2 linked regions of the Homo sapiens genome follow. The protein of the gene in region 2 interacts with the protein of the main gene of each other region in a pairwise test. Each region holds a gene or a part of one and is shown on either strand. Other genes may lie near its edges.

The links.
Region 1: the proteins of PLEKHA3 (region 2) and MRPL45 interact in a two-hybrid assay, tested with the Homo sapiens proteins (one large-scale study listed by BioGRID).

What each region holds. Positions count from the first base shown.
Region 1 is NC_000017.11:38,314,168-38,317,667, reverse strand, and holds part of MRPL45 (large ribosomal subunit protein mL45), read right to left. Parts: intron 1-3,500.
Region 2 is NC_000002.12:178,493,957-178,497,456, reverse strand, and holds part of PLEKHA3 (pleckstrin homology domain-containing family A member 3), read right to left. Parts: coding exon 3,468-3,500; intron 1,962-3,467; coding exon 1,797-1,961; intron 1-1,796. UniProt on the Homo sapiens protein: Plays a role in regulation of vesicular cargo transport from the trans-Golgi network (TGN) to the plasma membrane.

The DNA of each region.
Region 1 (3,500 bases), on a different chromosome or scaffold from region 2:
CCCGGGAGGCGGAGGTTGCGGTGAGCTGAGATCACGCCACTGCACTCTAGCCTGAGTGACAGAGCGAGATTCCGTCTCAAAAAAAAACAAAACAAAACAAAAAAAACACAAAACAGACAACAAACCCTAGCTCCTATAGATACAAGATTTTAGGAGGGTTCCTAGCTGATGAGTCTCAAACCTAAGGCCATAGATTAGCTTCTTTCAGATACACACGACTTTTCCCCAGTTTACTATGAGCAGTTTAACTCTTTGTCCCCTTTGAAAAATCTTGCTCTCTAAGCCCAGAATGGGTAAGGGATTAGTTCTAACATGTCTATCTGCTTCCCTTTCATCTCTATTCCTAATAGGAAAGATTCCAAGTCATTTCCTCTACTGTAGGAACAGACTGAGCTGTGGTGACAACTACCATGATGACCATCACTGGCACCTCTGAGTGAACTCTTCCTCCCCACTATCCTGGCATAGAAGTCTTCAGTGGAAATAAACTCCATTTTCCATGAGTTCACTTACTATTTTGCAATAATGTAATACTACTTCTACTATAAACATTTAGAAATGGTGGATTTATGGGCCGGGTGCGGTGGCTCATGCCTGTAATCCCAGCACTTTGGGAGGCCAAGGTGGGCAGATCACGAGGTCAGGAGATCAAGACCATCCTGGCCAACATGGTGAAACCCTGTCCCTACTAAAAATACAAAAATTAGCCAGGTACAGTGGCACACACCTGGAGTCTCAGCTATTCAGGAGGCTGAGGCAGGAGAATCGCTTGAACCTGGGAGGTGGAGGTTGCAGTGAGCCAAGATCGCGCCACTGCACTCCAGCCTGGCAACAGAGCAAGACTCCGTCTCAAAAAAAAAGGAAATGTTGGATAAAATGTAAAACAGACAAATACACTTTTGCTTTTTTTTTTTTTTTTTTTTTTTTTTTGGATTGCACCACTGCCCTCCAGCCTGGGCTACAGAGTGAGATTCTGGGACTACAGGTGCACGCCACCACACCCAGCTTTTTTTGTATTTTTAGTAGAGTTGGGGTTTCACCATGTTGGCCAGGCTGGTCTCGAACTCCTGGACTCAAGTGATCTGCCCGCCTCGGCCTCCCAAAGTACTGGATTATAGGCATGAGCCACCACACCTGACCAAAAAATAATTTGACAGAAACCACCCCTAAGGAAACCCAGACATTGTAATTATTAGTAAAGACACAAATCAATTGTCCTAAATATGTCCAATGAGCTAAAGGAAACCATGGACAAAGAAGTAATGAAATCAGAAAAACAATGTGTGAACACATTGGAGACAGAAATTATACAAGGGAACCAAACAGAAATTCTGGAGCTAAAAAGTACAATAAATTTTAAAATTCACTAGAGGGGTTCAACAGCAGGTTTGAGCAGGCAAAGTATCAGTGAACTTGAGGATAAGGTAATTAAAATTACATAGTCTAAAATGCAAAGAGAAAAAATAATGGAAAAAAAATGAACAAAACCTTGAGGGACCTGTGGGACATCATCAAGTATACCAAATACACATCATAGGAGTCCCAGAAAAAGAAGAAAGAAATGGATAGAAAAAAAATTTGAAGAAATAATGCGGCCAGGCACAATGGCTCATACCTGTAATCCCAGCACTTTGGGAGGCCAAGGTGGGTGGATCACCTGAGGTCAGGAGTTCGAGACCAGCCTGGTCAACAGGGTGAAACCCTATCTTTACTAAAAAATACAAAAATTAGCCAGGTGTGGGTGGCAAGTGCCTGTAATCCCAGCTACTTGGGAGACTGAGGCAGGAGAATCACTTGAACCTGGGAGGCGGAGGCTGCAATGAGCCGAGATCGGGCCACTGCACTCCAGCCTGGGAAACAAGAGTAAAGCTCCATCTCAAAAAATAAAATAAAATAAAAATAACATGCAAAAAAAAAAAAAGAAAGAAAAAGAAATAATGGCTGCAGACATCCCAAATCTGATGAAAGACATTCATATGTACATCCAGGAAGCTCAAAAACCTCCTAGCAAGATAAACTGAAAGAAATTCATACCAAGAAACATTAAAACCAAAGTGTCAAAACCCAAACACAAAGAATGAATCTTGAAAGTGGCAATAGGCTGGGCACAGCAGCTCATGCCTATAATCCCAACACATTGGGAGGCAGAGGCAAGAGGATCACTTGAGGCCAGGAGTTCGAGACCAGCCTGGGCAACAAAGCGAGACCCCTGTCTCTACAAAAAAATTAGAAAAAAAAAAAAAAAATTAGCCAGGTGCTGTGGCACACACCTGTAGTCCCAGCTACTCAGGGGCTGAGGTGGGAAGATCGCTTGAGCCCAGCAGGTTGAGGCTGCAGTGCAGCTATCATTGCACCACTGTGCTCACTCCAGCCTGGCTGAAAAAGTGAGACCCTGACTTTAAAATAAAAAAGAAACAAACAAAGGCTAAAGGGGATCCTTCAGGCTAAAATGAAAGGACACCAGAAAGTAACTCAAAACCACAAGAAAAAAACAAAAAACATGTATGTTTTACTACTATGTAGGAAAAGTAACTACATAGATAAATATAAAAGCCTGTATTACTGTACTTTTGGTTTATAATTCCTCATTTTTCATCCTGTATGATTTAAAAGGCAAATGCATAAAACAATAATTATGAATTGATGTAATGGGCACCCAAGGTATAAAACTGTAATCTGTGATAATGAAGCAGGAGAGACATAATGAAGTGGGAGGGAGAGACATATAGGAGCAGAGCGTTTGTATATTATTGAAACTAAGTTGATATTATTCAAACTAGGTTGAACTAGCCACCACGCCTGGCTGTGTTTCTCTATTTCTGCAAAAACCACTGTTGAGGACAGGCGGTGGCCCATGCCTGTAATCCCAACGCTTTGGGAGGTCAAGGCGGGTGGATCATCTGAGGTCAGGAGTTTGAGACCGGCCTGGCCACTTAATGGGAAAGCACAGTCTCTTCAATAAATGGTGCTAGAAAAATGAATATTCTCATGCAAAAAAAAGCAAAAACATCACATAGTTTTCACTATATACAAAAACTAACTCAAAATGGAGCAAAGACCTAAATGTGAGAGCTAAAACTATAAAAATCTTAGAGAAAAAGGAAGGGGAAATACTTCATGACACTGGATTTGGCAATGATTTCTTGAATATGACACCAAAAGAAAAAACTCGATATGGTAACAAAAGAAAAAAACTTGAAAAACTGGATTTCATCAAAATTTAAAACTTTTTTGCATCAAAGGATACTATCAAGAGTGAAAAGACGGCAGGCGCAGTGGCTCACGCCTGTAATCCCAGCACTTTGGGAGGCCGAGGCAGGTGGATCACCCGAGGTCGGGAATTCAAGACCAGCCTGTCCAACATGGTGAAACCCTGTCTCTACTAAAAATACAAAATTAGCCAGGCATGGTGGCGCATGCCTGTAATCTGAGCTACTCAGGAGGCTGAGGCAGGAGAATTGCTTGAACCCAGGAGGCAGAGGTTGCGGTGAGCCGAGATC
Region 2 (3,500 bases):
AGATCGAGACCATCCTGGCTAACATGGTGAAACCCCGTCTCTACTAAAAATACAAAAAATTAGCTGGGCATGGTGGCAGGCGCCTGTGGTCCCATCTGCTCAGGAGGCTGAGGCAGGAGAATGGCATGAACCCAGGAGGCGGAGCTTGCAGTGAGCTGAGATTGCGCCACTGCACTCCAGCCTGGGCGACAGAGCAAGACTCCATTTCAAAAAAAGAAAATATATACATATATAGTATTTATATATATATTTATTTTATTTGTGTATATATATAACGGGCTCAATTGTCAAATAAATTTCAGCAACACTGTACACTACACTTCCACCTCTCAGAGATTCATAATACACTTCAGCATAAAAGAGGGTGTGACGGCTGGGCATGGTGGCTTATGCCTGTAATCCCAACACTTTGGGAGGCTGAAGCAGGAGGACTGCTTGAAGCTAGGAGTTTGAGACCAGCCTGGGCAACAAAATGAGACTCCATCTCTACAAAAAATAAATTTAAAAACTTAGCTTGAAGCCAGGAGTTTGAGACCAGCTTGGGCAACAAAATGAGACCCCCCCCATCTCTACAAATAATAAATTAAAAAACATAGCCAGGCACCGTGGTGTGCACCTGTAGTCCCAGCTACTCAGGAGGCTGGAACTTGGGAGTTTGAGGCTGCAGTGAGTTATGATGGTGTCACTGCACTCCAGCCTGGGTAACAGAGTGAGACCCTGTCTCTAAAAAAATAAATAAATAAATAAGTAAAAAGGCTGTGACAAGTCCCATCAAACCCAATTCATATCATTTAAGTTAACCTAGCAATTCCCAAATTAATCTGGCCATAAAACTCATTTTCATGGTACGCTTGCCTCAGAGGAAACTATTAGCCCATCAAATACTGATTAGAAAACAATTCTCTAAATAAATCTAGGCAATAATCTTTACTAAATCTCATAACTAAATTTGCTGGGATAGGTAAGAGAACCTAGGAAGAAGTTAGACCCTATTCTCCTAACAAATAGATCTTCAGGTAATTGCTGAAACAGCAACAAGGTGGCATTCTTACTCCTATAAATGGACTCCTAAAAACACTTTGATGCAATAAACTTGAAGTCTCATTAAAGCTTATCTCACCTACAAATTTCTAACAGCATGCTAGAGCAAATTTATTAGCTCAGAAAGGACAACGAATCTGCCACCCCTGGCAAAAAGAGGACTTGTTCTGAGCAATAAGGAAGTAAGAAACTAACACTGAGCACCTAACAGTAAGCAGGTCAGATCGTTTGCAGTGACTCTCTGATATACACTGTATTTTTACACATGAAGAAACTGAAGATCAGCTACTCTGAGGGTTCAGATCCAAATGCTTAGTAGAGAATACCGTTCCCACCGGAATATGTTTCAAATTCCTTCTAACTCCTTTAAAGATATACGTAATTGTACCCCATTGTGACTAAAATCTCATTCCATTGTGTAATTCTTACCAAGCAGAATAGAGCTCCCCAACTTTTTCTTTGTCACAGCACTTTGTAATATTTTCCTAGACACTGGGGAAAATGGATGAAGCAGCCTGTGGGCAGGCCATGCACAGCCCCTCCAAGGAGAAGGGAATGAGGACACTAGCACAAGTGCTCAGCTCATCAGCTAAGAAGCTCGAATATGAAACAGTACAAACAAAAAAATTCAACTTGTTAGCTGTTCCCCGCCCCCCAACTGCCTGCTTCCACCCTTAAAAATAAATACCAAAATGAAACGAAAACCACATGCAACATTACTACTGAGGGAAAAAACCAAAACAAGAAGTTCAAACCATTTGAACAGGAGAAGGTGACACAGGAGAAACTAAGGGATCCGGATGGTGCAGTTGAAACATCTCAGGTTTAAACTTGGCATTGGCTATCTTCACACATTCCTCAAGCGTTGTGATGAATGTGTTACACGTGGCACTAAGCAGAGAAGAGGCTTCATTCATGTTCTGAAAAATTACACAAAGACTTGAACAGATTTGCATACAACTACATGGAATCATATACAACCTTATCATTAAATAATAAGACATCTCCAACAGACACATTACTATGTTATGTTCAAATTTATTTAAAATACAGTACCTTAGAAAATTAAGCTGGGGCAAAAAAAGAAAAAAGAAAACATTAAAACATCTATGTATAAGAAATGCCTGTCTCCTAAACAATGTATGAAACTAGATTCTAAGAAAAAATAAGCTTTGCATTTAATTATCATATTGAAAAACTGTGTACAAAAGTTTATCTTAGAGAAATCTAACCTAAACAGTAATTTTCACTTTCCCAAAAGTGGACACAGACATGGAATACCCTTAGAGTTAATTAGTGGCAGTACAATTCATGCCTACCCTCTATCCATTCTCCCACTTCTTCCTTGATAGAGTAAAAAGCCCAATTTTGTTCAGGATCGCAAAGTGCCCTGATCCTGGGGGATGAATAGAGACTGATCTAACCTAGTCATGGCTATTCCAACACTCTTTACTAAATGCTCATTTTTTCCTAGTTTCCTTTGAGCCGGAAAAAAAAAAAAAAAAAAAAGATGAGAAGTTGGCTAGGGAATTTCTGGGATTTTTGTTTCCCGATTCAAAACCAAGCACAGCAAGTTGAGAAGGACTCTCTCTACCCTGGCAACCCCACTGCCTCCTGCCTCTTTGTGAGCTTGACAGTCATCTTGACACCTGGGGCATTAGGAGAAAAACTCAACACACCAAGAATGGCAGAGTGGAAGGATGGAACAAGCCTGGGTCCCTAATACTGTCACTGAGCTGCTGTAGCAAGTGTGAGGTCAACTACCTCCAGGGAGCTTGTGGTCAGTTTGTCCTTGGGCTTCTTACACAAGATTCCTCCCCAACAGGAGAAGGCCACAGAAGAAATAGGAAGATTTCTTGCCCCACTTCTACCAAGTTAGGCAAAAAGGGACAGGCAACATGCTGGCCTTTCACCCAGAGAGTGGTATAGCTCACTGGTCCTATTTTACCATGAAGAATGAGCCTATTATAGCCCGATCCTACTAATCTGAGTTTTGATTCCTAAGTCACTGTTCTGAGAAGGATTTGTTTTAAGTTATTTCATAAAGATAAGTTATCAACTCTCATAGTTGAAGCAGGGACCTTATTACCAAAAAAAGAGAATAGCAGCTGTCCAGTGAATTTATGCCGCTAGCCTGGAGAACAAAGCCTGGAATGCTTCTTCCCCACTCCAACCTCCAAATTATCAGACTGGCTGCAAAGACAAGCCTTGACCCCTGGAGAAATATGCTACTTCATGTTCTTCTCTGGCCACACAGACACAATCGAGAAGATGCTACAGATTTCCAGATAGTATACAGTAGGCAGAACCCAGAAAAGCTGAAAATAACTCAATGTGAAAATGCCTGTCATCTTATGGAATGACTGAGGATCCCCCCAGAGTACTCCAAAGCATAACCACACGTGAAGAGATCCTCTTCGCTCTACCTCTGCACTAGGAGATGAATGATTCTCATCATG